Linked DNA regions of Homo sapiens: all the other regions are linked to region 1. Evidence: fine-mapped expression QTL. A gene starts in region 1. Each other region holds a variant in brackets. All regions are shown on one strand. Distances are from middle to middle.

Region 1 (4,262 bases):
AAGTTTTCAAAAATACTCCCAAACTGAGGCTTCTGAGTTTGTAAATCAGAAAACAATGCTACTAAAGTTTTATAGAATGATGACAACCCACGGCTTTTAATGGGAATGTATTTGTTCAGCTAAAAAAATGTGAATTGCTAGAGCTTTGTACGCTTATTTTAATTAAAATTACCTTTATTTTGGGATTTGCAAATACAAAAAAAAACTAGAAATTACTCCTGAAAATTATTAAACTTTTAAGAGCAAGCACTCAAAGGGTGTAGCTTGTATAATTTGCAAATTTTAAGCACATTTTATGCCAACTTATTTCAGACAGCCTACAATGATTAACTATTTTAAATCTTCCCTTAATTTCTATTTCATGTGGTAGGACATGTGGGTGGGGTACTTCAGTAGAAAATGACTTCATGAAGTTCATTTGCTGGTGGAAACTCTTGGCATGAGAGACTCAGAACAAAAAAAAAGTCTTTCCTTCAACAAGCATATTTTTTCTTTACAATAATAATGGCAAACATTTATTAGAGCTTACTATAGGCTATGCATTACTCTAAACAATCTACATATGTTGTCTCATTTAATCCTCATGCTGTCCTCCAAGATAGAAAACATTATTCTTGTTTTACAAGTTTCATTATCTATTTTATAGATGAAGACACTGAGGCAAAGAGTTCAGTGGAGCTGGGATTCAAAATGATGGAGTCTCACTCCGGGATCCATGCTCCTACCCACTATGTTTATAATAGCAGTTCCTGAAAACCCTATTAAAACAGATGCCATTAAATTATAAGCCTTTTAACTTTTTTTTTTACCGTCTATTACAGATCACTAATATGATTTCAAGTAATGATGAATCTAAATATAAAGGCACTAAAACAAGGAAAACAAGACAGGAAAGAAAACTCTAATCCATTTTAAAAGACCACATGTGTTTCCCTATTTGTTTTGCTTAAAAGTGTGGACAAATTTGATCCAGAAAGGACATTTAAAAAAATGGCACACTGAGGGCTGAGAGTCAGAAATAAGATTTACTGTAAGGACTTACAGATAATCACAGATTCCTCATGGGAAAGGTAAACATGTAAAGACGAGGAGAAAACAGAATATGAAAGAGTAAACGTCTTTTTTGATTAGGGCCGGATGGTAAGGATTTGGAGGCAGCAAGAGACAGCTTCATAAGGGAAGAAATGGTTCTCTAGATTCTTTAGTCTTCAAAATGAGTTTGAATAGACCCAAGGACAGAGGTGGAATCTAATTGAGAAAAAGGTCAAATTGAGCTTACTGTGAGGGGAAGGATGCAAAATTAGTGTCTGCTGCAAGAAAAATAAGCATGGAAAGAAATTAAGGGAGGAGACAGAGACAGAGCCAGAGCCACAGACCAGGAGTAGGGAAAAAAAGGTAAGCAGCAGACGGGGCAGAGTGGCCTGGAGGAATGAGGGGTCACACCTAGCAGGTGCCCACCGGCGAAGAGGCAAGGGCCGAGCCCGGAGGGCAAACGCCGGCAGGAGTCGTCCCCGAAACACCTTGCCCAGCGAGGCGGACACAAGCTCGGGCCTGCAAGACGGCCCAGGAGGGTGGGGGCGGGAAGGGGTCGCAGAAGGTGGGCAGGGGAAGCGGCTGAGGACACGCGATGCACCTGTGGGCGGTCCCCGTGCCCACCTGACTCGCCCGCAGCTCCCTGAATGAACCCTCCACACCCGCCGGCCGCCCCCAGACCCCACCTGACGCGCCCGCGGCCCATCGTCCCTTCCTGACGCGCCCGCGGACCCAGACCTCAGCAGACGCGCACGCGGCAATCCCGTCCCCATCTGACGCGCCCGCGACAACCCCGTCCCCACCTGACGCGCCCGCGACAACCCCGTCCCCACCTGACGCGCCCGAGACCCCCGGTCCCCACCTGACGCGCCCGCGACCCCATGTCTTCCCCTGACGCGCCCGCCGCCCCCGGTCTTCACCTGACTCGCCCGTGGCCCATCGTCCCCACCTGACGCGCCCGCGATCCCCAATCTTCACCTAAGGCGCCTGCGGCGCCCAGTCTTCACCTGACGCGCCCGCGGCACCCCGTACCTACCTAGCGCGCCTGCAGCCCCCAGTCTTCACCTGACGCGCCCGCGTCCCCCAGTGCCCAACGGGCGCGCCTGCCACCTGGGCCGGCACCTGACGGCGACCAGGCGATTATTGCCGGAAGTGGGCCACCGCCTCTCGGCGCGCCTCAGGGAAGCCCCGCCCCTGGCCATGCTGATTGGCCGGCGCGGATTCGCGTGGCAGTGTTGCTGCCGGGTCCTGACGCCCGCAGCGTGCGCCTGCGTAGTAGGCACTGCCCCGCCGTCCGCGCGCGCCCAGAGTGCCGGGCGTGGAGGTGTGGGGGCGCGGGGGCGCGGGGGCGCGGGGGCGCGGGGGGGCGGGGGCGGGGGGGCGCAGGGACGGGCGCGGTCAGTGCCTGAGATCCCTGCGATCGCTGGGAGATGACGGTGAAGACCTGAGATTTAGGCCTGCGCGGCGGGTGACGACGCCGGTCCGGGTCTTCACTGGAGGACGCTGGCCGGGGCCTTCAGGTGTTCTCGTGGCCTGAGGACGCGCGTCCCTGAGAATGTGCGTGCCCGCGCCGCGCGGGTCCCACAGGAGCCTGGGCAGCCCCGCCGCCGCATTTCCACCCTGCGGCCGTATTTCCACCCGCTGGGCGCCAAGCCCGGGATGACTGCACTCTAGGGCATCACTGCGCGCTCACACTCAGCATTCAGGCACAAGCACGTTCTCTTTATAAACAGTTTCGAATCTTGTCGAGTCTTTCTAGAAGGTTGAAATGCCCTGGAGGAGCAGCGTGAATAGTTTTTTCCAATTAGGAAAAAAGAATGTGGGGCGGCTGGAGGGAGAGAGGCAGGCCGAGAAGGCCAGGTGCGTCCAGGAGCCGCAGCCCCCGTGCCTCAGTTTCCTCCTAGAAACATGGAGGTGGCGGTGCACGCTACAGGATTTCTGTAAGAACAGATGAGTTAACGTGTGCAAAACATTTAAAACAGTGTCTGGTGTGTAGCAAGCAAATATGAGTATTAGTCTTTTCCTTGTTAAAATGTGTGCATCTACATTTGGTGCACATTACAGGAAGTGTATAGTATGGATTCATATTTTGGAAAAGTAATTTTAGAAGTTATTTCTGATGTGCTTATTGTAATAGTGTTTCTTGACCACATGCTTTTAGATAATGTGAAGGCAATGAAGCAGGCAATATTGCTTGCACATCCCCAATTTAAACACCTGTCTGTCCCTCCTTCCCTCTCTCCTTTCTTTTCTTCCTTACCCTCTCTCTTTATTCCTTCCTTCATTCCCTTCAAGGTTGCGGATTATTCCATTATATAAATGTATCAATTTATTAGAATAGTTTCTATGATGTCTATGATGGGCTTTAGATTGTTTGCAATAGTTTGCCATTACAAATAATGCCCAGTAGTGCTGTGGTTTGATTTAACTTGTGAAGGTATATTTCCAAATAAATCGCTATGATTGGATTGTTGTGTAAACCAAAAAGTGTCTGAGGCAGATCACAACTGATATAGAGGTTTATTTTGCCAAAATTGTGGATTTGCCTGGGGAAAAAGAAACACAGGTTACAGTAGGATTTTTGGCCTGTACTTTTTTCCAAATATTTAAGGGAAAAGCGCCGGTAGGAGGGGAAAGAGGGGAGAGTAGGCTATGAGGCAAGTGGTCACATTTTTGTGAGGCTCTGATTAGAGTACAGCAAATCTACATTTCACATGTGAAAAGAAAGGTATGGGGGAGGGTTATACATCTGTCTCATACTCAGTAGATCTACATTTCACATAAGATAAAGTAAGCTTTTGGGAACAAAAAGAAGGCATGTATGTGTGTGTGTGTGTGTGTGTGCGTGTGTGTGTGTGTGTTGCCAATATTAACTTTTCCCTTTGGCATAGTAAGTTTGGAGGCCTGAGATTTTATTTTTCTTTCACTGATGTGTCAAGATTAACTGCATATGGAATACTAGTAGAAATTGCCAAGCCAAGACCCCACCACCACAATAGGGGACATAGTAATATTAAATTTAGCCCAATTGGCCAGCATCCACACAATTCCTAGTGAAAGAATTCCTGGCTGGATGGTAAAGAGGTAAACTAACTGCAGAAACTCACAAAGCAACAAAAGAAGTCCACAGAATAAGAGCAGGAATTCAGAGAGTAACCACAGAGAGATCCACAGAGTAACAGCAGGAATTCACAGAGTAACAGCAGAACCCACAGTGTAACATCAGAGCC
Region 2 (4,262 bases), 52 kb after region 1:
GATACGATGGCGGAAGGGGAGGCGACCTCCCTCTGGGATTCGAATCCAGCCCTCCCACCTGGCAGTCATGGGACCTCCCTAAGCGGTTTAACTGCCAAGTCCCAGATCCCATCTGTGAAGCCAGGTGATAAAAGCTGTGGGTCACTGGGTCTCCTGGGTTCCCAGAGGTGCCCATGGCCGTCTCTAGAACAGCAGCTCCCCGTGGGTGGCACCTGTGTTCCCAGGCACAGTCCCGCCTGGATGCCTCCAGCCCACCTGGAGCTGTGAATGAACCAGCACCTTTCCCGCCTCCTTCCAGCCCTCCGACCATGGCCTCTCGCAGGACCCCTGGGAATCACCCTCATCTGTCACTGTTTCCCCACCGGGACCCACCACCGAGGCTACCAGGGAAAAGCCACAGGATTTGTTTGCATCTGGGGAGGCAGCTCCACCTTCCTGGCATGAATGGTCACTAATGATTGGACTTTGTCAGCCTGCAAGGCAGGAAGGAGATTTACTCTCCACAGACTGGACAGTCCTTAGCTTTGTGCTTGCCACATAAATGGCATTTAATACATGCTCCCTGGACTCAGCACCACTCCTGAAGGCCTGTATTGTGGTCAGCAGTTATCATTTCTTCCACAAATGAGCTCATTCTTCTCCTCTCAGGATCAACCCTTTCGCCTTCACTGAGGCATCAGACACCAGCATTCGGAGGGACACCCACTCCATCCTCTTCTCTCAGCTGCCTGTGGAAATTCCCATCTCAAACACGTGACTCCCCACAGAGTGGCACTCACTGATCACGGATCTTAACTTTAAAAGGTGAAAAATAAGTCAAGGCTTAAGGTAAAGTAACGGGAGGTGTGGATGTCTGAGCAATGCGGTGAACCGAGTCACGGGGCCGCGGAGATGTTCGCAGCTGGGACTTTCCAGGCCTCCCGAACGCAGAGCGCCCGAAGCCATCAGTGGCCACAGAGTGTGTTTCAGGTGTGATTTGGGGTCATTTATGCCAATTTTATTCTTCTTTTATTTCCATCTGGTTTTCTTTCTATAAATTGCATACGTCATGCATGCTACGTTTTATAGTCATCCGTGTGACATCCGTCTCGCACAGTGAGTTAAGGAGGACGTTCCGCTACAGCTGTACTTTTTACTCAGCAAAATAAAAAAAGAATAAAGATGAGCTTGAAACTCCTTTGGAATCACTACATTATCTGTTGCTTAGCAAAAGCAATCCATGAATAACACACATGTACACACATGATACACATTCATACACACACAAAAACACGTCTGCACATATGTGTATACATACACATAGAGACATAGGCACACATGCTCTGAAGGTCTGCATGGTGGAAAATTCTAGACATGTTCATTTCTACTTCCTGCCAAGCGCTGAAAACTTGGTGTGCCTGAAAAATCACTTGGCTTCTGTAACCAGATTTACCAAATTAAAAAATTAAAACTGTCCAAGTGTAGAGGCACTAGAGTTTTGTGTCATCATTATTTTTTGAACCACCAAACTTTTATGATGTTGTTGCATTTTTAACAATGCTTGAGTCAAATATCTCACGTAAAAAGAAAACTTCTAAAAAGAAAAAACAATCTAAAATCATGAAAATTTTTGAAAGCATAACCTGCAGTCTCTCCCTCCCCAAAATTGTGTGAATTTGTATGTCATGCATTGATTTCTTACAGTAGTCAGAATGTCAGCCGAATACCACAAAACACGTGTGTTTAGAGAGACTCCCCCGAAGTTGGGAGTGGTGAGAAATGGCGGGAGCTTGTCCCGAACAGACTCCTGGTGCC[A/G]ACAATACCAGTGAGGAAGGTTCATCTCGAAAAACAAAAGCACTGAAGAGAAGCTGCATGAAACGAGGGGAACTTCACTTTTATCCTTAGATAAATGATTTTTTTAAATTTTGTGGCCACATAGGTGTATGAATTTATGGGGTATGTGAGATGTTTGGATACAGGCATGCAGTGTGAAGTAAGCACATCACAGAAAACGGGGCGTCTGTCCCCTCAAGCACTTATCCACTGAGTTACAAACAACCCAACTACACTCCCTAAGTTATTTTAAAATGCACAGTCAAGTTCTTACTGACTGTAGCCCCCCTGTTGTGCTATCGAACACCAGGTCTTACTCATTTTTCTATTTTTGCACCCATTAACCATCCCACCTCTCCCAGCCCCGCTACCCCTTCCAGCCTCTGGCAACCGTCCTTCCCCACCCCATGTCCATGAGTTCAATTGTTTCAATTTTTAAATCTGACAAATTAGTGAGAGAGAGAGAGCAATGTTTGCCTTTCTGTGCCTGGCTTAGAGAAATCATTTTAAAATTTCTGGTGTGCTTGATGGTGACAACTAACAGCCTGTGAGTTGGGGCTGCTCCGGTGAGGGGTGTGATGACGGGGAGGCTTCAGCCAGGTGGGCAACCAGGCCCTGACAATGGCCCAGCGGCGACGGGAGCCTGATGAATGTGCTGCAGGAGGTCAAGGCTGCACATCGATGTCCTCACGGCTGTGTGAATGGGTGTGAGACAGAGTCGTGCAAGTTCCAGCTGTGACTGATGAGAAAAATCACAGATATCACAATTTTCCCAGCCACAAAATGGGGGAGCAGCAGAGTGAGGGCCCAGTGCAGAGGAGAGACAGACACACCTGCACACGCACGGCGGGACGGGCAGCTGCATGCTCACCCCAGGACCTGGTGTGGAGGAGTACAGACACACCTGCACACTCACGGTGGGACAGACAGCCACACACTCACCCCAGGACCTGGTGCAGAGGTGGAGACAGACACACCTGCACACACACCCCAGGACCCAGCACGGAGGAGTACAGACACACCTGCACCCTCACGGTGGGATGGACAGCCACACACCCCTGCGTCCTCACATCCTCCCCTGGAACACAAGGATTTTGCATCTATCATGTAAGTGTGCATGAGTGTGAATGAGTAGGTGTGACTTGTGCAGCAGCCTGTGTGTGCGTGTGTGTGCAATGATCATGGCTGTGTGTGCAAACTGGCATGAGAGTGTGGGTGTGTGTTGCTGTCCAGCTGAGAGGACTGTGGGGGGAGTGAGTGGATGTCAGCCTCGGCCATGGCTTTCCATGCCCGACCTCTGAGCCAGCCCGGTCCCGCCTCCCACCTGCAGGCTGCGTGGGTCGCACCTGCAGTCTGCCCAGTGAGGCGCAGGTGTTTCTCACAAGTAGGGGCTGCTTTCCTCACAGCTCTGCTCACACCCATCCATCTCAGGGACTGCAGGCTGAGGTAAAATAGGTTTTTAAAGTAAGAAAATTGACTGAGAGCATGAGCCTGGCTGGCTGTGTTGATGGATTGTGGCCTTGAAGTGAGCCCTTGTACGTTTGTAGACTAAGAAACTCGATCCATGCCAGGCAAAATGAAAACCGCGTGAGAAAGGCTCTGTGACCCGGATTCCAAGGCCGTCGGCCGGGATCCGGGAATCTGGTTTGGCTGCCGTGGCCACTTGTGTCTGGTCCGCAGCGGCTCTGCTCAGGCCCAGATCCAGGCCTCTCCCGGAGAGCGATCCCTGCCCGCTCCTTCTTCACCCACACCGCGGCTTGGATCTCAGCTCTCAGCTCTGACCCTCCCCTCTGAGGTCCTGTGGACGTGTCCAGCTGTGGAAACCACCACTTTCAGGGTGAGGCCTCTGCCGTCCCAAATGCCCCTACTGGCCTTAAGATGTCCTTGAGACGGAGCCGTTCCCGGGGCTGCTGGCCGTGACCTCAGGCACCGCAGGCCCCACCTGCCAGGTCCACAGCTGCCCTTTTGCTCAATGGCATTTCTTTGAACACGGTTTTCAGGTTTTCTTTACGGGGTGTTCATAAAATCACATGCTGTCTTCTCGATCGTAGTAAGACAGGAACAAGCCTCGTGGACATCATGGGGCAGTCGAGGTGACCTGCTCTGCGAGGTGCTGCCTCGAGAGTGTGGATTCCCTCAGCGAGAGGCAGCAGCCGCCCAGCCCCGGGAGCCCCAGCCCAGGTTCAAAGCCCTGCGTTTCTTTTCAGTGTCTTCTGGATCTGAAGGAGGGGGTCCCGTGAAGTACAGACAGCTGTGTGTCTCCATAGCAGGGAGAAGCCCTCTCAATTGTCCCTTCCTGCAAATCCCCTTTCCTGATCCCAAAGCCGCAACAGTGGAACCTTCTGGAAGGTGGATTTCCAAGGATTGTCCTTATCCTAAAACTGCATTCAGGAAAGACACATTGACATGACTGGGGGCAGAGATGTGTAATGCAAATAAAGGTGTCGCTT
Region 3 (4,262 bases), 180 kb after region 1:
TGAGACCCTTTTTCCAGTAACACTGAGGCTCCATTTCCAGTCATGGCAAAGCAGCTCATGTCAGTCCAACACACCACCTACATCCCCTGGACAGATACAGGCACCAACCACCAGAAGGTACCGGGCACAGCCGGAAGCAGAAAGAGACTGAACAGGCGTCCGTACTCGGAGGAAAGCCGTGGCGCCAGGCAGATTTCCTTTTGTAAGGCATTCCACTCGAGAGCAGCTGGCCCACGCAGGGGAGCAAAGCCTCGGGTAGGAAACCACCGTCCCTCCGGCATGAGGACCCAGAGAGCAACGGGGTGACTGTGGCAGCCAGGGAGGAAAGAGGAGTTCCTGGAAAGGACAGAGCCAGAGGGGACCCCAAAATCTGCATTTCACTCTGCCTAGATCTCCTGGAGACCTGGCCCACACGTGTGCAGGACTTTGTGCCGCCTGAAAAGAACCGATGAGCGGCACCAATGGTGCCACCGTAGGGGACAGAGCCTAGCGTCTGCCCGACTAAGCAAAACAGAAATCTGTCTGACAGCCTGGGGACCGGAAGTCTGAGGTCAGGCATCGGCAGGGTCAGTTCCTGCGGAGATGTGAAAGGGAATCTGCTCCCGGCCATGCCCCAGCAACCCTCTGTGTTGCTTTTGATGGGGTTCGGGACACGCTACCCCAAAGTATGGCACCTTGGCACTGTGAAAACAGCAGAAGCAGGAAGGTCTCTCTCACCTCCCCTCAGCCTTCTCCCCTACAGCAGGTCCCCAAGACCCTGATGTGAGACGCCCTCCCGAAACCCGGGGAAAAGACACGCCCTTCTCTCTGAAGATACAGGACACAGAGAACTGGTGTTGACAGCTGACGTGATGACAGTTCTCGTCTTCTCAGTTCAAAAGAATTTAAACAAGAGACACACTGCAAAAGAAGTGCAGCACAGAGTAACTTATTGCAAAAGAAGAAAAGTATTTTGCAGGGGCTCACGCCTGTAATCCTAGCATTTTAGGAGGCCGAGGTGGGCGGATTACTTGAGGTCAGGAGTTTGAGACCAGCCTGGCCAATATGGTGAAACCCCATCTCTAATAAAAATAGAAAAATTAGCCAAGCATGGTAGCAAGCGCCTGTAATCCCAGCTACTTGGGAGGCTGAGGCGGGAGAATCACTCAAATCCGGGAGGCAGAGGTTGCAGGGAGCCAAGATCATACCACTGCACTCCAGCCTGGGCAACAAGAGCAAAACTCTGTCTTTAAAAAAAAAAAAAAGAGTATTTTGAAAGTGAGGTGCAGAATAGACAGGCCACCCTAAGGGAGAAAGGACTCAGGGTGGGTCATGAGGGTGAGACAGCAGAGACCGGCCATAGGGAGGCTGCCTTTATGGGAGTCTCACCCGATGATCCATAAGAAGATGGGAGAGGTAGCCGGGCATGGGGGCTCATGCCTGTAATCTCAGCACTTTGGGAGGCCAAGGCGAGTGGATCATCTGAGGTCGGGAGTTCAAGACCAGCCTGACCAACATGGAGAAACCTCGTCTCTACTAAAAAAAAATACAAAATTAGCTGGGCATGGTGGCGCATGCCTATAATCCCAGCTACTCAGGAGGCTGAGGCAGGAGAATCGCTTGAACCTGGGAGGCAGAGGCTGTGGTGAGCTGAGATCTCACCACTGCACTCCAGACTGGGGATAGATCTAGACCCCACCTTAAAAAAAAAAGAAAGTGGGAGAGGTGTTATCAGGAAGCACAGTCTGGTGGTCGTCGGCACACATGCTTGTTTGTAGGTGGTGTGTCTCATTAGCATCTTACATCTCCACCCAGGGGTATCTTTTTCACTGTTATAATGAACAAAGGGTTGGTTCGAGGACAGGTAAAAATTAAAGTGTGCGTGCTCTTTAGAAGAGAGTCCCCGCTGGAGATAGCTTTGCTTGCGTGAGCTCAATTACAAAGCAAACACTGAGGTTTAGGTGGTGGCTGTGTATAGTCAACACAGTCATTTCCCTGCTCACCTATCCCCTCTCCCCCGGGCACACAGGCCGTGCTGAGGTGCCCAGTTCACCCATCACATCACAGCCTCCCGTCCTCATCCACGTTTCCCCACGGCCATCCCCTCTTCATCAAGCCAAAGCACAAACACACAGGTCCACCTGGCTCTGGGTCTTCATTTCCTTACGAAGGCTCCAAGTCACATAAAACTAAAATACATTTGTTCGCTTTTCTCTGGTGAATCCGTCTTGTTTCAGGAGCCTCAACCCTGAACCTTTTCTCTCTGCACTTGGAGTGTAGA[C/T]GCGTCCCTTCTTCTCTCCCTCCGGCTTCACCGTACCTTCCCTGTGTGTCTGTGCACACATTTCCCCTTCTTAAAAGCATGCTGGTCATTGGATTTAGGGCCCACCCTAATCCATCATGAGGTCATCCTAATGCATAACATCTGCAATAACCCATTTCCAAAAATGTCTGTGTTCACAGGTTAGGGCTTGAACATATTTCCTAAGGACACTATTCAGCCCTCCACAAACACCAGCAGCAGACTAAGCCACGTTCAGGTCGTGTTGAGGTGGGAAATTAAAGAAAAATAAAATTAAAAAGAAAGAGAAATAAGCTTTCCCGTATTAGGCTAACTTGTCCTAGAGGCAGCAACAAGCACAGCCCAAACCCAGGAAAAGTCTTAATAATAATATTATCTAATGTGCTCTGGAGACTCTCCCAGCACTCCCTCAATATAGGGAGAAGAAAAACAAATTTTCCTTTGTTTTATGGAATGAGTTTATAAATTCCTGTTCTCTGTAACTATTGACTTCAAGCATTGTTTTATCTAAGCAGTAAAGTGAAGGTCATGAGCCTCTGAGCAGGCCTGAGTTACGGCCACCTGGGCAACATAGTGAAGGTTATGGGATAAGCCCGTGCCCAGGTTAACCTAGATAACGGACATGTGGGTTGCTTGGCAACAGTCATGTGCAATCCTGAGTTTGTCCTGCCTCTGTATCCCTGCTTTCACGCCACTGTAAGCTTGCTTCAAGCTAGCCCACCCCCTTTTGTGAAGTGTGTGTAAAAGTCAGGCGCTGTCTTTGTTCTGGGCCCAGTCTTTGGACATTGAGTCTGCTGGGTCTGAGTGCACTCAATGATAAAGATATCCTCCTGTGTACACTCCAAGGTCTCTCTCCGGTCCTCCTGATCCTGCAACAGTGCTAGGTCTCCCTAAAGGCCATCGGGCCCCTGGGTGGACCTTGGAGTCTTGCTCATTATCTCAGCCATGCTGTGCACATGACTGTAGTCCCAGCCTGGCCCACCCTGGGATGACAGGAGCTTCCCCCGGCGGTCCGTTTCCTGCACTGGCCCCCCCACAGGGATGTCTCCCAGGGCTGCCTGGACACGTCTTCACATTGGCTGAGGGGTCCCTCAAGGGCAACCAGACATGGCTTCTAGTCTAGTACCTGTTCTTCCCTCACAACATGAGTGAAGGATTTTAAACCTTCAAAGCCATATTTGCACTTACCTAACCCCTTAATCCTTTTCCTTCCGTCCCCCGTCCTGGAAGCCCCACTCAGTGTGTCAGGGGATTTCACCACCGAGGCACCTGTGGGCTGGGACCTGGGAGCTCTGCGTCCCCCTCCCCACACTCAGTTTCACTATGGCCAGATGCTGCCTCCGATGAAAGAAAGGGAGCCCATGGCAGAGCGTCGAGGGCGCCAGGGTGGCCACACAGGCCAGGAGACCAACCTCTAACCCTGATCTGACACAGGTCTAAGGGGAAGGTCATGAAGAAGAAACACAGCTCCTGAGAGACGTTTGGGGAGAACGAACCAGGACTAAACTAGAACTTACTCCGTGCAACCAGGGCCTCTCGGGAAACACTCAGGAAACCCTGGGCTGGCAGAACTAGTGGCGTCTTTGGGGACGGATCCCCGCAGGTTGGGAGTCCACGGTGCAGGGCCTGCATGGGGGACCAGACACGGCCACACCAGACGGGGCCCCTCTCAACGTTCAGCTGCTCAAGAAGGAGAAAAAGAGAAGGATTCTAAATGACGCACTGCCCTTCACACTTCAGGGTGAGGTTCCCGGCCCACTTTGTATTATGATTAAACACGCAGGTGTGCGCACACCCACAGCCCTGCACACACACCTGTGCACACTCCCAGCACCCACTCCCCCTTTTCTCCTGGGCAGAGGACGGCCAGGCCTAAGTGTGGTGCCCAGCACCAGTGACGGGCCCGGGGAAGGGACTGTGACGAGGAGGCCAGTGCCCCTGTGGACACAGCTGATCTAGAAACATCCAACTCAGCCCTCTGACA
Region 4 (4,262 bases), 250 kb after region 1:
AAGGTCAGGAGTTTGAGACCAACCTGGCCAACATGGTGAAACCCTGTCTATACTGAAAATACAAAAATTAGCTGAATGTGGTGGCGGGAACCTGTAATCCCAGCTACTCGGGAGGCTGAGGCAGAAGAATCGTTTGAACCCGGGAGGCAGAGGTTGCAGTGAGTTGAGATGGTGCCATTGTACTCCAGCCTGGGCAACAGGCTGAGACTCCATCTCAAAAAAAAAAAAAAGTACACTAATTAATATAAAACCAAAAGTTTTCGGTTAGAGAAAAGTTTTGTTAAAATAATAATTTGCTATTAATAAAATTTGATGTTTAGGTGGGCGCGGTGGCTCACACCTGTAATCTCAACATTTTGCGAGGCCGAGGCAAGTGGGTCACCTGAAGTCAGAAGTTCGAGACCAGCCCGACCAACATGGTGAAACCCTGTCTCTACTAAAAATACAAAAATTAGCCAGGCGTGGTGGTGGACACCTGTGATCCCAGCTGCTCAGGAGGCTGAGGCAGGAGAATCGCTTGAACCTGGGAGGCGGAGGTTGCAATGAGCCGAGATTGTGCCACTGCACTCCAGCCTGGTAACAAAGCAAGACTCCATCTCAAAAAAAAAAAAAATTGATGTTTAATTCTGTGTTGATCCTTGCCTTCTGTTCTTGTGCCCTTGCCAAGGTGTATCTTTTTGCTTGGTTGGGATGATAACCTTCCCTTTCAGCCTTTTTTTTCATCAGCTCCTGTAACTTTCTTTTCCAATTGTAACTACTGCTGTGGCCTGATGCTGAAATGTTGATCTTAAAGGTCTAGAAAAGCAATGTTTTCCTTCATATAACTTGATTCTGTACTCTTGGCTTTTCTTGTTATACATTGTTCAGTATAGCCAGGAAACTTCTCATGCTGTTACTAAGAGTCATGCATTGCCCTGCTCAAGGTGCTGGTTTTCTTGTTTCCTTTCCTCCATAACATCAGGTACACTCATGACCCTAGACACACTCTTCCTGCACCTGACTAAATTCAAATATCCTTTTTCATCAGGTTTGACTTGCAGGTTAGCTCAATGGGCTTCCAGAGGAGAAACAATGACTGCAGAAGGTGTTTCTTTGCCTTTTGAGTAACTGGCCTCAAAAAACGAAGATTTTGCATTTTATCAAGATAATTTCCAGTGTCATTTTTATTTGGTTTTTTGATTGCTTATGAAAACTGAGCTTGTTTTTACATCCATGTAACTTTCTGCCTTGCCATTGAAGATGGCAATGGTTACATGAGTAACTATTATTTTACAATGACCTAGGATTCTATTTTGATCAAATGTTTTGAGCCTTTTAACATCTTTCACAAAAGTCCTCAAAATCAAATCCTACATTAAGCATCTCACTTAGACTTATTGCAGGCAGGATCATCAAAGCTATAAAAATGAATCATTACGAGATTATACATATTTTTTTGAGACAGAGTCTCACTCTGTTGCCCAGGCTGGAGTGCAGTGGCACAGTCATAGCTCACCGCAGCCTCGAACTCCTGGGTTCAAGTGAACCCAAAGTGCTGGGATTATAGGAGTGAGCCTCCACACCTGGCCTGTAAAATCTTTTTGCAGCTTCCAGTTGTGTCATGAACTCCAAAATCACCACCTCCAGCCTGCTGATTACATACACTGGAAGAAACATCAGTTACAGGACTCTTTCCCCTGCACTTTGGAAGGGTCCTTAAAAGGTACTATTAACAAATCCATGTGCTACCAAGTTACAGGGAGTTGACTCCTGGGCACACATAGAGTATGAGTCTGTTTTCACACTGCTATAGAGAACTGCCCGAGACTGGGTAATTTATAAACAAAAGAGGTGACAGCCAGAGGAAGATGCAAAGGAAAGGCATCCCAGGCAGGGAGCATTGCAGCTACAAATGCCCCGAGAGCCTGTATGAGTTTGATTTCACACGCTGTAAAGACACTACCTGAGACGGGGTAATTTATCAACAAAAGAGGGTTCATTAACTCACAGTTCCCCATGGCTGGGGAAGCCTCAGGAAACTTAGAATCATGGTGGAAGGTGAAGGGGAAGCAAGGTACGTCTTAATTTAATTTTGCGTTCATCCTGTTCATCATGGCAGGGGAGAGAGAAAGAGC[A/G]AAGGGGGAAGAGCCCCTTATCGAACCATCAGATCTCGAGAGAATTCACTCAGTATCACGAGAACAGCGTGGGGGAAACAAGCTCCCATGACCCAATCAGCTCCCACCAGGTCCCTCCCTCAACACATGGGGATTACAATTCGAGATGAGATTTGGGTGGGGACACACAGCCAAACCGTATCACATCACCTAAAAAAGGCACCAACTCCTGCTGAATCTTGAACATTCCACACTGGTATCTGAAACCAAACTCAAGCTAACCAAAGCCTTGTCTTCAGATCCGGGGGAAGACAACCATCGAAGTGAACGGCTTTCATGAGACACAGGGCTGGGTTTATACTCCAAGACGTTAAGACATTTCATAGTTTTCCCTCTATCTGAATTAATATAATTTGCTCTATGTCTTAGTACTATATACTTTAGATGTTTAGCTACCTGTGAGCTTCCTTTTCCTGTTCTTATCAGAACTGAACAGCGCTTATTGCCTTTGTATTTAAAGTGTTACTGATTCTTTGTTTTGTTTTCCAAAGTCAAGAAAACCTTTTTTCTTTTAACCTATTTATAGGTGACAGAAACTGAGTAAAATAACAAAGTTCAGCTTTCTCTCTCTACCTTCTACCTCCAGAATTCAAAAACTATTCATGAGCATTCTTACTTACAGCAATATGGTGGTTTGCATAAGTTCAATAAGAATACATTTTCTTTTGTAACAGGACACTTTGGGGATATTATTTTAACAAGACCTTTGACTGAAATAACACTTTCCGATAAAGTTCCAGCAAAGCCAATTTAAAAAGAGCCTACACGGCCAGCTGCTATTCCTGCTGCAATTTACACAAATGATCAAGCCAAATAGAATAAGACTAAAACTTATTTTGTACACAAATTGGTCTTATTATTATTTCTCTGTGGTAGAAAGGGGGAACTAAAGAGATGAAAAAAATTACGTTTCAAAAGAAAACACTTGTTCTGCAATTCCAGCCCCGACCACTGTTCTTGAGTTTTATTTTTTGCCTATAATTCAAACTGAGTCTTGAATTATCTCTTGGCTACACATCTCTAAAGAGGATCCAGGTTGTAATTTTCTTCATGATCGTTTTAGTTGGCTCCCTAATGGGGTTGATTCCTTTCTTCCTGTTAGGGGCGCATAAATTCTTGTTGAGAGGCAAAGCCAGCTGGACTTCCTGGGTGGCGTGGGGACTTGCAGAAATTTTCTGTCTTACAAGAGGATTGTAAAACGCACCAATCAGAGCTCTGTAGCTAGGATTGTAAAACGCACCAGTCAGAGCTCTGTAGCTAGCAAGGGGATCGTAAAACACATCAATCAGCGCTCTGTAAAAATGCACCAATCAGCGCTCTGTAGCTAGCAAGAGGATTGTAAAATGCACCAATCAGCGCTCTGTAAAATACACCAATCTGCACTCTGTAAAATGCACCAATCAGCAGGATCCTAAAAGTAGCCAATCACAGGGAGGATTGAAAAAAGGGCACTCTGATGGGACAAAAATGGAACATGGGAGGGGACAAATAGGGAATAAAAGCTGGCCACCCCAGCCAGCAGCAACAACCTGCTCAGGTCCCCTTCCATGGTGTGGAAGCTTTGTTCTCTTGCTCTTCACAATAAACCTTGCTACTGCTCACCCTTTGGATGTGTGCCATCTTTGAGAGCTGTAACACTCACTGCAAAAGTCCGTGGCTTCATTCTTGAAGTCAGCGAGACCACGAAACCACCAAAGGAACCAACTCCAGACACATTATGCCTGTACGTTATAATTCTACCACTCAAATTATTAATGCCATTTATCTCTCAAATCTCTCTCATTCAAAGTCTCCTGGAGCTGTTGCTGAAGCTATACCATATCAAGCACCCTCTGTCTAGGCCCAGGGACTGCTGAGGAAGAGAAGGGGGCGTGAGATGGTAAGGGCTGGCTTCAAAGGATAAAACTAGTTCAGGCTGGGTGCGGTGGCTCATGCCTGTAATCCCACCACTTTGGGAGGCCAAGGCAGGCGGATCATCCAAGGTCAGGAGTTCGAGACCAGCCTGGCCGACATGGTGAAACCCGTCTCTACTAAAAATACAAAAACTAGCTTCACATGGTGGCACGCGCTTGTAATCCCAGCTACTCTGGAGGCTGACGCAGGAGAATG
Region 5 (4,262 bases), 32 kb after region 1:
TTGTTGGGGGGCTTAGAATTTATTTTTGGTTTACATGTTATGCAGAATTTTCTACAGATGATGATGCCCTCTGTGAGTAATGATAATCTCACTCTTTTCTTTCCAAACATGATGTGTTTTTTGCTTGTCTGAGTAAGCCGACTAGGATTCCTGGCACCATCGTGAACGGCTCTGGTGGGCACAGGCAGCCCTCTGCTGCTTCTGATCTTAGGTGGGAAACTGTCATATTTCACCACTAATAAAATTTTAAAAGACAATTCTGGCAAAGATCAGAAATGGCAAAGACAGTGGAGGGTGACAGAGGGGTTTGCCTGCAACAGTTCATGTTTTTTATTTTGTTAAAAGAGAGTTACAATTATTACAGAATATTATCGGGTAGAAAACAAATGGCATTTGTCTTACATTATTCTTTCTACTTTGCTTTTTGTTTTTAAAAAATATACCAGAGAAATGAAAATAAAGTCAGCCTCCATAAAATTATGAAGAAGAAAGGCAGTATCATAATGATTATGCAGGAACCAAGGACTGGCCTGGAAGATGGGCCCCCAAGCTCACAGGGACACCAGCAGGCACTGCTTCTAGACATGGAGCCTCAGTTCCAGAATGTCCCGTGACATGACCAGGAGTAGGGAACCAGCCCTCCCGACCTCCATGTCTTATTTGCCAGGCAGGGGTAACTGCAGGCTGGCCCTGACCAGGATGACCACTGGCTCCCACTGTGGATGCATTTCGTGCGTGGCCTGCATTGGACATCGGCTCACCCATGTGCTGGGGTGTCCAGGGTCCAGGGGAAGCTCCAGGACACATTTGAGGATCAGGAGAGCAACCTGCATAGTGCAGGACTCTTGTCAGGGAGACCACGACCCGGGAGCCTTTCCTAGAAGACACAGAGTCCCCAAAAATACCTGTGACAAGGGTCTCATCACAGCACTGTCTGAGAGTGCTTGGAGAGAGGGAACCTGCCTGCAGCTGTTCCCAGAGCAGTGGGGCGGGGGACACTCCCCTACTGAAGAAGGCATTTCCTTTTGGCGCCTCCAGTTCCCCCTGCCAGGACGTCAGCACCCAGGCTCTGATGTGGGCTGCTGGGGGCCACGGCACTGCAATGCTGCCCTGGATTGAATGGGGCGGGGGCTATAGATGTATAATACAAGTTGGATTTTAGAGACTTGGTATGTGGCATAGAGTCTCAAATGTCCAAAGATGTGTCGCATTGATTTCAGGGTGAGTGGATAGTTGTTCTGATATACTGAGTTCAGTAAAATACATCGGCAGCAGGAATTTTACCGGTTACTGTTTCGTTTTTGTAAATATGGCTACCACAAAATATAAGGGCACGCAGGTTCACGCCCTCACCCAGCACTGGCCTCCCCTTCCCAGACAATCAGCCACATCTTCGCCTGCCAGCATGGCCCCTTGTTCTCAGGGCTCCTGCCCTCATGCTCCTGTGTCCTCCAGTCCCCCTGCCCTCTAGGAAGCCTCGTGGCTGATGGGGCTTTGCTCAACCTGGTCTCGCGCTCACCTCCACCTTTGGCTCTAAGGCTTGTCATCCCTAAATGAGTGCCACCGTCACGGAAGCTTCAGGTCCACAGAGCTGGATGCCCCGGCCAGGCCTGCCAGCCTCATTCCTCGTCCAGAGCACAGTAGCTCCTGCAGGTTCCCCTCCTATTTGACCAAAATAACCCTCCCGATCCCCTAAATTTAAAACTTCAGTGTGGACCCTGCCTGGGGTTCCAGGACCCCAGCCCCTCTGCTTCGCTCTCCACAGCGTTTATCACTCGACCCGTACCAGGCTCCTTACCCGTTTCTCCTATTTCTCTCTCCCTTTAGGAGGGCAAGACTATTGTTCACTGCTATTTCCCCACAGCTAGAACGGTGCTTAGAGGTACGCAGGTGTGCACACCCAGGTGCACACACACAGGAATGCACACAGATACACACTCACAAATACACACACATCTTGTATGTGTGAAAATAAGTAAATCAAACATCTTCATATTGTTTCAGTACTTTAATATTTTAGCTCTTTAAAAGATTCCACATTTACATGGTAGTGTTTCCTATTCAGCATTTTTCCCTTGATCACTCTGTCCTATTCGAAAATATTCTAAAACAATTTCTGAAGCCAAACCATCGAACTCTTCAAGACTAGGTCTCTAAGCAAATATGCCAAACAGACCCGATTCAAAGTCAGGGAAACCACAAGGCTGTCAGCCCAGCATGTTCCGTTGAAAGGCGAGTCTGAAGCAACGTCCCAGACCCCTGAGGTGGGCTCCATCCCAGCAGCTCCCCTGGGTCTGTGCAGGGCCCCCCACGCCTCCGAGT[C/T]GGAGCCAGCTCTCAACTGGCCAAAAAGAAGATGTGATGACTGTGAGAGCCTCTCCAGGTCCTTCGGGTCGGACCTGTCACCTAATTGGGTGAATTACGGCTGAATAGGTGAGGACTGTTTAACTGCCTTCAGGCATCTTTCAGATTGTGTGGTTAGCTAAGCCAGCTGCTGCAAGAAATGGAAACAAACTCATTCCAGGGTTGCCTCTGGAAGACGCAGGTGCCCACGGCCCTCCAGTCCCCCTGAATCCTCATCTTAAAATAAAATAGGTTGGCCCTTTTTCATTACTAAACTTATTCAAATACAGGTGTCCAGCTTGCACGGAATTACCCTCCATTTTCCATTTTTATGCACTAAATGCATACGCATATTTCTAGACTATTAGTTTCTTCATTTTTTTCTTTACAAAAGAGGACTCTTTCTGCTTTTATTAATTTTGACGATTTTCTCTAATATACTGTAAGATTTAATGCATGTTATTTTCTAATTGCTGTATTTCATCCTGGATTAAAGTAACCTCAAAAAATAATCATCAAGAAGAGATGGAAAGAAAAGAGGGGAATGAGAAAAAAATGAACTTTACCTTTCAACAAATTTATAAAAAGATGTGTTTTTTATTCTTTACAAAAACTAAATTATTGTTCATAGGCTGAAGGCTGTTGAATTATGAGAAAGCGTCATTTGAAGAGATGGATGCCTGTGACCCCGCCAGGCTCTGCAGACCTGGAGGCGGCTCCAGATCTGGGGTGTGCGGCGCATTGTGTGTCCAACAGGTGATTAACTCTGCTGGTGACATGTGTTTTTAGATATGTGTGTCTTTTCTATGAGAGTAAATCATAAAGCCCACAGGATGTGCAAGCAGCCATTCTCGCTGGCCAGGCGGTGTTAGCGCTTGCAACGCACATAGATTATATCCAGGAGGATGCAGTCAATACTTTCTGGGTCCTTTTTAGGTTTTGGGGGCTTTGCAACACGCTTTACACTGCCCCTCATAAACCCGTCCTAACTGTGCGTTCCAGAAAATGTGCAGTTTCTTAAGTTTAGGAATTTTTTTTACGGCTTTTATTTTGAATGCTTGGATTCTTAACTTCTGGTCCCAGTGCAGGTTCATAAACAGACATGGGGACAGAGGTCTGCCTGGCCAGAGCTTAGTTCTGAGGGACACGCTTCGGCCATCCGGAGAGAGGGCCTGCTCCCCAGGCTGAGGAGACAACGGCCACGCCGGGGAGCACCACTCCCAGTCAGGGCCTAAAGCGTGGAGCCTGGGAAGAGGGGGCTTGCTCCTCCGCCTGCTCCTGGCAGTACACCCCAGGTCCCCCCGTTACCTAGGGAATGGCGCTGAGCAGGGCAGGTCCCAGGGCGCCATGGAGAGAAGGATGTCAGCCGCAAAGCCCTTGGGCGACCAGGCCCAGAGCCGCCCACTTGGGACAAGCCGCCAGGAGCAAGGGCACAGCTTTCTTCTGGGTCTCGCAGGCCCCTGGCTCTGCACAAATGGTGGGAGGGACCGATCCTACCCTGGAACCGTAGAACCTCGTCCAGCTCTGAGTCAGGAGCCATGGGGGCCATGGCCTTCCGGGCCTGCTGACCTGAGTAAGGGTCCCAGCACCGCTTCCAAGGCCGGGACAAACGCCTGCTCCTAGTGGGTCCCGCGTTGTTCCCGCTTGTTATCTAAGAGATGCGGTCAGCCCTTCGGAAGCCCTCCGACCCCGCCCAACCCCCACACTTCTCCGGCCGCTGCTCCTCTTCCCCCATTCAAGCCAGTCTGGCCTCCGGCTCTGTTCAGAGCAAGCCCAGCCTCCTTGTCATGGACTGGAAGGACCCCTGGCTCCAGGCTCCCGTCCTGCTCACACCCAGGAGTGTGGGCCACGCACTCCCGGAACCTAACTGTGGGTGAATGCTGGCCCTGGCTCCAGGCTCCCGTCCTGCTCACACCCAGGAG
Region 6 (4,262 bases), 77 kb before region 1:
GACCTGCATTTCTTCAACAACCCACATAGAGAGACTTTCCTGCACTTTTGACCTGTGGCTAACACTCCTTACCTTTCATTCTGTCATCAGTGTTTTAGGGAAACACCTTTAACTCTCTACGATTTACAGGTTATTAAGTGGCGCTTACAATTCCCTCCAGAGGTGAAAAAGACATAATGATGGTGTCTGAGCTCACAGCAGCAAGCAGGCGTGTGTGCTCAGCAGCCACGTGGCTCATCTGCTAGGAGCTTGCTAAATACGATGTTCTACAACATTGCTTAACACAAGGGGAGACGCTCCTGACTTGGAGAGTTTAATTGCTCACCTACTTCTTTTTCTGCCCTCTTGGGCTTCTAAAATGAAAAGAACCCTGGGGTGATAAAGTGAGTCAAAGGGGTACCAGGTGCATCACAGCAAAATAGATTCCTAAAAAATCCCTGGCCTAAGATGATACCCTTGGCTGGATACGTTTGAATGTGCTGATAGTGGACATGGTAGAGTGAAGGTGGTTGAAATGTTCATATTAAAGAACTTCCACCCAGATTGCAAGAAAAGAGAGAGGAATGGAGATGGCAGCACGAGTCCCTACAATAAAAGCAGATGTTTTGAGACCGGTTATATTTCTTCCGACAAAAATTAAAGACAGAAACCAAAGTTTAGCCTGAGGCTACAATTAATTGGGCAATAAGCCGAAGGCACATATGGCATAGACAGATTTAAACATTTCTCCCTTATATTAATACAAATACTAAAATTACAAATACTTTGATTCCAAATAAAACAAATATTTAAAAAATTTAATGAATAAACACTGGGGTCTACAGTAGTATTTGAAGGAGATCTCACAAACAGGTTTGGTTTTTGAAGGTTAGAACTGGTGGTCTAGAGAATTCATTTCATTCCAGAGAGAGAAAGAGAGGAATTTCTTGGGTTCCTTCAGGAATGTGTCTAGCTTTGCCTCATGTTTGTTTGAACGATGGATACGGCAGAAGAAAGCATGAGGATTTCACAGATTTAAGGTGCAAAAAGTCACTGGGTTCTCTAAGAAGTCTGGGATTCTTCTGCTGCAAAAATAAGTTTGTTGAGAAAAAATGAGTTGGAGGAGGCTGTTATTGAAGTGAAGCAGAATTGTTTTTACTAATCTGCTTATTACCCACTCTGCAGTGTGGAAACAAATTATTCATGCACAAGGTCCTCTTACTGTTCCTAGAATGCAGTGGAAAGAGAACAGATTAGTTTTTCTCACTCAGAACACAACCCCTAGAAACATCCTACCTCAGATGAGATATTGCCTAATTATTTTCAAAGGACAGTGAAAAATTATGGATGTAATGTTTGCTGCAAAATTAATACATGCTAGAAACAGAAGCATCTGGGTCACAGCTATATTAGAGCTATCTGTGTTCCCCTGTCACTGAGATTAAAACAAAAATGTCCAATACAATCACTCACAGCATGGGAGAGGGGAAGTTGAAGGATGGAAAGGCCAGGCATAAAAGGATTTCAGAATTTCCGTCCATAAGGAAGTAGCTTTGTGCATTGTCTGTTACTGTGTGCAAGGTGAAGTTTGGAGAATGAAAACGTGCAGTAACAACGGCTCCTTTGTCCCTCTCACCTCTCCAGATACCAAGTTTCAGACATGTTGCATTTTAGTTGAAAGGTTGATATAATTTTTTTTAAAGAACACTTGCGGTGTTTGAAGTGACAAAGGCTGCTGTGACAAAAAAGCAGGGAAAGGGATTTTTTTTAAAAAGCAAACAACAACAACAAAAACCCCACAGAAAAGCAAACAACAAACAAACAAAAAACAGAGGAAGAAGTTGAACACCCTGGGCTGTGACTACTTCCAGGAAGGGGCTACAAGAGGCAGTTGGAAATTCTATTTGCTTTGCAACTGTGGGTCTTCCAGCCTGCTTCCTTTCTAAAGTATATTACTCTGCTTTTGGTTCATGAAATTATCCATTTCTGTTTTCTGGAACAGCTATGTATTTTCTTTATCTATCATCTATCTATCTACCTGCCTATCATCTATCTATCTATTTACTATCTATCTTTTCTACCTTTCGCTATCAAGAGCTTGGGTCAAGCAGGATAGAATTCCAGTGTATATTCACTCTACCATTTAAAACAAGAGCTCTTGTAGGCATTCTCCATCACATCATAAACCTGAGCTTTCTAAAACAGGGTGTGGCAAACTACCATGCATGGACCAGGTCTGACACAGTCTGCGTTTGTAAGTAAAGTTGTAATGGGACACAGCCA[A/G]TACATGTGTTAAAAAACGTCTCTGGTTACTTTCATGGTATAATGGAAGACCTGAGTCATTAAGAGAGAGACCATATGGCTTGGAAAACTTAAAATATTTAACATTTAGCCCTTTGCAGAAAATATTTGCTGACTCTTGTTTTAAGAGATCTCTGTTTAGAATGCTACCTATTGCCTTCTGGATAGAATCACAACTCTTTACCACGATCAACACAGCTTCAGCCCTGCTTCTATATCCAGCCTCATCTATTTCTGCTCCTCCTCCTTATTTTCCTTCCGGACATGCTGATGAATTGTCAGCTTCCCAGATGTGTGAGAATCTCTCCTCCCTTCCCAGCATTCTCATGCTCTCCCTCTGCCTCTCAAGAACTTCCTGCCCCATCTCTCATGACAAATCCCTTCTTCATTCTTTAAGATGCAGCCCCTTTGCTCCTTCCTTAAAGATGTCTATCTGGCTCTATTTTGGGTGACATGCTCCTTCTGCATCTCCCAGAGCCACCCTGTGTGTGTCAGCTACAGCATTTCTTTGCATCTCTGTGTCATATATCACCAAATCTGCCTAACCTTGAGTGAGTCACTGCATGACAACTTCAGACTCCACCAGCATTGTCCCCACCAATCAATTATTTTCAACCATTTAAAAATGTAAAAATCATTCTTGCTTCATGGGCCATACAGAAACAGATGGTGGGCAGAGTTGGCCCAGGGGCAGACCACTGTTTGCTGACCACTGCCACACTGTCTTAATCAAGGCAGCTTTTATGGTGAGCCATGGTATCTAGTAATTTCTCCCATTTTTGTCCCTTTTAAGGGCCCTTACTTGGCCCTTTGCATTTCCATATAAATTTTATAATTAATTTGCAGATGTCCACAAAAAAGCCTATTAGAATTTTAATGGGACAGCTAATGCTAGAAGGGTAATTTTAGGAGAAACAAGAGATGCTTATAAGTTGTGTGTGTGTGTGTGTGAGAGAGAGAGAGAGAGACACAGAGAGAGAGAAAGAGACAGAGAGAGAGAGAGACAGACAGAGACAGAGAGAGACAGGGTTTCACTCTTGCCCAGGCTGGAATGCAACGGTGCAATCATGGCTCACTGTAGCCTCGACCTCCTAGGCTTAAGCAATCCTCCCACATCAGCCTTCCAAGGAGCCAAGACTACAAATGTATACCAACACACCTACCTAATTTTTTTGACTTTTAGTAGAGATGGGGTTTCACCATGTTGCCCAGGCTGGTCTCAAATTCCTGGGCTCAAGTGATCCACCCACCTTGGCCTCCCAAAGTACTGGGATTATGGGTATGAGCCACCATGCCTGGCCTTTTAAAAAAGTTTGAGACAGGGTCTCACTCTGTCACCCAGGGTGGAGTGCAGTGGTGTGATCATGGCTCACTGTAGCCTCAACCTCCTGGCTCAAGTGATCCTACCACCTCAGTCTTCCATGTAGCTGGGACTACAGCTGCGTGCCACCACATCTGGCTCATTTTTTTTTTCTTTTTTAAGTAGAGACAGGGACTTGCTATGTTGCCCAGGCTAGTCTCAAACTCCTAAGCACAAGCGATCCTCCCGCCTCGGCCCCTGAAAGTGCTGGGATTGCAGGCATGAGCCACCACACCCGGCCAAAAGTTGCTTTTGAGGAGTTATTGCTGTGTGGATGTGATATAACCCTTTCTGTCATCTCTTCACAAAACTTTCTGTAAAACATAAAAATCACCTGGACCTTCAGAGATGAGTTTGTTTATTTTTTTATTTTTTTAAAAATTGCTAATTCACAGAACATGGAGATGAGTATGTTTTGAAGGCTTGGAAGCATGCAAGTGGGAGAAGAAAGGAGTCAGCTACATTCTGGCTGTGTGCAGAGGCAGGTCACTGTGGTGGGAGTGTTCCTGTCTCATGGACTCTGCAAATCACAATGCTTGGCATGGCCTCCCGACCCTGATGGCAGAGAAGCAAACACCAGTCGGAGAGCTGGGGTCCTCCCAGCCCTCTTGGCCCTGTGGCC
Region 7 (4,262 bases), 34 kb before region 1:
TCACTACAAAAAAATCAACTAAAGATAAAAAAGAAATAATTGAGAAAATGGCAAAAATCAGTAACTCTGACATATTAAAACTTTCCATGCTACATAAATCTGAAAACTCTATTTCACATAAAACTGGAGCTGAAAGAGACAAATATTTACCTATAAAGTTAAAAGTTATATAGGGAACAAACACTAATTTTTTTTAGAAAAAATTATAAAAAGAGTAAAAATATGCCTTATACTACCCCAATTTCATGTTTTACAGCTCTGGGAAAATAGAAAATAAAATGTTCTGTTAGCATGAATCCCTCTGTGCCCCCAAAAAACCCTATGGATTGCATCATTATTACCTAAAAAGTCTATTGTCAAATGCAGCAGAGTGATATTTTTTACAAGGTAGATATTAATTTTAGATATGGAATAATATTGGTGATTTCAATTTTATAACACTGGGTTAAGATGAAAGAATGAGAAGATAAAGGTCCCTCAGCAATATAACTCACAAACATATTCAGCAGTAAGAAGTTACATTAATTATCTTTTGAAAGTCAATAATCTACATCTTTAATGTATGCATATAGCATAGCTAATGTACTATCGCTGGGTCCATTTATTCAATGAATAATTGCCGCTATGTGTCAGACATTTTTCTAGGCCTAGGAATGGATACATAAGTGAACAAAGCAAAGATTCTGGTTCTTGTAGAGTTTCCATTAAAAGACCATTTAGTAAAACTGTTCTTCCCCCAAATTATAAAATCTGTAAGATGATTTAACAACATGTGTAAAAGTCATTGTGGGCCAGGCACGGTGGCTCATACCAGGTGTGGTGACTCATAGCACTCTGTCACCCAGGCTGGAGTGCAGTGGCACAATCTCTGCTCACTGCAACCTCTGCCTCCTGGGTACAAGCGATTCTCCTGCCTCAGCTTTCTGAGTAGCAAGGACTACAGGTGCACACCATCACACCTGGCTAATTTTTGTACTATTAGTACAGACGGAGTTTCACCATGTTGGCCAGGCTGGTCTCGAACTCCTGACCTCAAAAGATCCGTCTACCTCGGCCTCCCAAAGTGCTGGAATTACAGATGTGAGCCACAATGCCCGGCCTTATTTTCTACAACTTTGGTAACTTTAGCATATACCCCAAATCTGTAAGACATAATATTATAATTCAAATGCAACTCATGGCTTCTCATTGTACTCTTTCTCTAGCTTTTGAATTATTTATTCTAATACCAGTTTTAATTCTGACACAAAAGCATGGGAGTTCTAATCAAAATCCAACCTTTTATCATAAAAACTATGAAGAAATTATGAGTAGAACTTAAAAAGGAAAATAGGCCTATTAATTAGATTTGTCTTTGTAGCATTTAACTCTATAATAAATAACATAATATTTTATGCCTATGAGTACCCAACAAAGCCTCCAGCTTCTATTTAGATATAAAATGTAAAAGTCACTACTGGATCCACAAGCAAGACTATGGTAAAGAAATTTCTCCAGCTAACCAGCTTCTTTTACATGATGTTACATGTTTGTTTTTTCATTTTGGCAAATATTGATTGTCATCTTCGTGTTTGTCTATGTCCCAAGTGCTGGGATACAGAATCTGAAAAGATGGACACAGGACCTGCCTTCAAGTTCACCCTTTTTTTTTGAGATGGAGTTTTGCTCTTGTCGCCCAGGCTGGAGTGTAATGGTGAGATCTCGGCTCACTGCAACCTCCACCTCCAGGGTTCAAGTGATTCTCCTGCCTCAGCCTCCCAAGTAGCTGGGATTACAGGTCCCAGCCACCACGCCTAGCTAATTTTTGTATTTTTAGTAGAGATAGCGTTTCATCATCTTGGTCAGGCTGGTCTCGAACTCCTGACCTCAGGTAGTCGACCCACCTCGGCCTCCTACAGTGCTGAGATTACAGGCATGAGCCATCACGCCCTACTAGGAGTTCACGCTTTAGTTGGGGAAAATATACAATAAGCAAGCCAATTTTTAAAAAGAGAACTGCAATTAGAGTTAAATGCTACAAAGACAATCTCACAGGAAGATGGGATGTAGAATGATAAGGCTCTCAGAATAGTAAGAGAAACTATTGCTTCTTACGATGTTTGTCTTTCTTTGTATCAGTGCTCAGCTGAGTCTGCAGTGCTTCAGAGGCAGCTTTCATTTTATAAAAATCTATGATTTCTCCTTCCAGTTGTTTTTTCTCTTCCTCGAGCTTCCTTATCTCCTCCTGTTGAATCATTTTAAGATGCTCGAATTTGTCCTGCAGCTGTGAAACCAATGTGCAGTTGT[G/A]ACACCAAAGGAGTGTGGCTGAACACCCAAAAGAATATGCTTTTTTGTGATTATCAAACAAACCCAAATCATCACAGTAGAGCACGATCTTAATAACAATCTCAAAAACTCAGGAGTAAACACTCAGATACGGAATTTTTCTTTTCTTTCTTTTTTCCTTTTATAAGATGGAGTCTCACTCTGTTGCCCAGGCTGGAGTGCACTGGTGCGATCTCAGCTCACTGCAACCTCCATCTCCCAGTTCAAGTGATTCTCCTGCCTCAGCCTCTTGAGTAGCTGGGACTATAGGCATGCACCACCACTACAGGCGTGTGCCACCACACCTGTCTAATTTTTGTATTTTTAGTAGAGATGGGGTTTTGCCATGTTGGCCAGGCTGGTCTCGAACTCCTGACCTCAGGTGATCCTCCCGCTTTGGCCTCCCAAAGACCTTTTTTTTTTTTTTTTTAATATAGAGACAAGTTCTCAGTATGTTGCCCAGGCTGGTCTCAAACTCCTGAGCTCAAGTGATCCTCCCACGTCAGCTTCCCAAAGTGCTGGGACTGACCGGATGCAGTGGCTCATGCTTGTAAACTCAGCACTTTGGGAGGCCAAGGTGGGAGGATCACTTGAGCCCAGGAGTTCAAGACCAGACTGGGTGATATAACACAATAGTAAACTTCAACAGGAGAGAGAATCTGTAAACTTGAATATAGATCTTCTGAAATTATCCAGTCAGAGGACAAAGAAAAAAAGAATAAAAAAGAGAAAAGAAGGCTGGGCGTGGTGGCTCAAGCCTGTAATCCCAACACTTTGGGAGGCCGAGGCAGGCAGATTAAGAGGTCAGGAGTTCAAGACCAGCCTGGCCAACATGACAAAACCCCATCTCTACTAAAAATACAAAAATTAGCCTGGTGTGGTGGCACACACCTGTAGTCCCAGCTACTTGGGAGGCTGAGGCAGGAGAATCGCTTGAACCCAGGAGGCGGAGGTTGGAGTGCAATGTGAGCCGAGACCACACATTGCACTCCAGCCTGGGTGACAGAGCACGACTCTGTCTCAAAAAAAAAAAAAGAAAAAAAAAGAGACAGAGAAAAGAAAGCCAACAAGACACCATTAGGCAAACCATTGTCAGGTTATGGGAGTTTGAGAAGGAAAGTAGAGAAAGGAGAAGAAAGCTCATTTAAAGAATGGCTGAAAACTGCCTAAATCATGGGAAAGATTTAGACATCTAAATCCATGAAGCTTAAAGATTCCTAAAGAGGTTCAAACCAAATAGATACTCACCAAGTCACAATATAATCAAATAGTCAAAAGTTAAAGAAACTTTGCAGGTCAGGACAGAATCGAATAATACATTCAAAGTGCTGAAAGAAAAAAACTGCCAGCAACTAATACTATGTCTGACAAAGCTGTCCTTTAGAAAGAAAGAAGAAATAACGTGTTTCCTCGACAAACAAAGCTGAGGGCATTCAGGACCACTAGGTCTACCTTAAAAAAATGCTGCGGATCACGAGGTCAGGAGATCGAGACCATCCCGGCTAAAACGGTGAAACCCCGTCTCTACTAAAAATACAAAAAATTAGCCGGGCGTAGTGGCGGGCGCCTGTAGTCCCAGCTACTTGGGAGGCTGAGGCAGGAGAATGGCGTGAACCCGGGAGGCGGAGCTTGCAGTGAGCCGAGATCCCGCCACTGCACTCCAGCCTGGGCGACAGAGCGAGACTCCGTCTCAAAAAAAAAAAAAAAAAAAAATGCTTAAGGGAGTTTTTCAAGTAAAAATGAATGAAGTTGGGAGCGGTGGCTCATGCCTGTAATCCCATTTTGGGAGGCCGAGGTGGGTGGATCACCTGAGGTCGGGAGGTCAAGACCAGCCTGGCCAACATGGCAAAACCCCACCTCCAGTAAAAATACAAAAAAGTAGCCAGGTATGAAGGCCACTGAGATCGTGCCACTGCACTCCAGCCTGGGTGACAAGAGTCAAACTACATTTCAAAAAC

Alleles and levels. Alleles are on the strand shown, and positions count from the first base shown. SD is a standard deviation of normalised expression in the study named. Not every link is listed here.
In carriers of allele G in region 2, the expression in skin of the gene that starts at base 2,305 in region 1 tends to be higher than with A alone (moderate effect, 0.65 SD a copy in TwinsUK).

The links.
Region 2: its variant is fine-mapped to the expression of LINC03100 in skin (TwinsUK, PIP 0.95).
Region 3: its variant is fine-mapped to the expression of LINC03100 in whole blood (TOPMed, PIP above 0.99).
Region 4: its variant is fine-mapped to the expression of LINC03100 in whole blood (TOPMed, PIP above 0.99).
Region 5: its variant is fine-mapped to the expression of LINC03100 in testis (GTEx, PIP above 0.99).
Region 6: its variant is fine-mapped to the expression of LINC03100 in putamen (GTEx, PIP above 0.99). The same link has a PIP of 0.9 or more in hypothalamus and sun-exposed skin.
Region 7: its variant is fine-mapped to the expression of LINC03100 in whole blood (TOPMed, PIP above 0.99). The same link has a PIP of 0.9 or more in lung.

Annotation. Positions count from the first base shown.
Region 1 is chr2:242,086,608-242,090,869 of GRCh38, reverse strand. It overlaps LINC03100 (long intergenic non-protein coding RNA 3100), which reads left to right and starts at 2,305. Exons shown (of 1, transcript NR_186294.1): 1 at 2,305-3,519. LINC01881 (long intergenic non-protein coding RNA 1881) reads right to left here and starts at 2,237. Exons shown (of 7, transcript NR_130702.1): 1 at 2,069-2,237.
Region 2 is chr2:242,034,910-242,039,171 of GRCh38, reverse strand. The region is part of intron 3 of LINC01237 (long intergenic non-protein coding RNA 1237); the gene reads right to left. It overlaps LOC105373980 (a long non-coding RNA gene), which reads left to right. Exons shown (of 3, transcript XR_924086.3): 2 at 1-124; 3 at 299-1,177. Among named protein-coding and RNA genes, the nearest start is that of LINC01880, 47 kb to the left of the region's middle. The variant A/G (reference allele first, on the strand shown) is at 1,795.
Region 3 is chr2:241,905,151-241,909,412 of GRCh38, reverse strand. The region is part of intron 2 of LINC01237 (long intergenic non-protein coding RNA 1237); the gene reads right to left. Among named protein-coding and RNA genes, the nearest start is that of FAM240C, 6.8 kb to the right of the region's middle. The variant C/T (reference allele first, on the strand shown) is at 2,261.
Region 4 is chr2:241,835,346-241,839,607 of GRCh38, reverse strand. No RefSeq gene overlaps it. Among named protein-coding and RNA genes, the nearest start is that of PDCD1, 21 kb to the left of the region's middle. The variant A/G (reference allele first, on the strand shown) is at 2,115.
Region 5 is chr2:242,055,069-242,059,330 of GRCh38, reverse strand. The region is part of intron 3 of LINC01237 (long intergenic non-protein coding RNA 1237); the gene reads right to left. All of the region lies in intron 2 of LINC01880 (long intergenic non-protein coding RNA 1880), which reads left to right. Among named protein-coding and RNA genes, the nearest start is that of LINC01880, 27 kb to the left of the region's middle. The variant C/T (reference allele first, on the strand shown) is at 2,323.
Region 6 is chr2:242,163,989-242,168,250 of GRCh38, reverse strand. No RefSeq gene overlaps it. Among named protein-coding and RNA genes, the nearest start is that of LINC01881, 77 kb to the right of the region's middle. The variant A/G (reference allele first, on the strand shown) is at 2,263.
Region 7 is chr2:242,120,288-242,124,549 of GRCh38, reverse strand. All of the region lies in intron 3 of LINC01881 (long intergenic non-protein coding RNA 1881), which reads right to left. It also overlaps the pseudogene SEPTIN14P2. Among named protein-coding and RNA genes, the nearest start is that of LINC01881, 34 kb to the right of the region's middle. The variant G/A (reference allele first, on the strand shown) is at 2,287.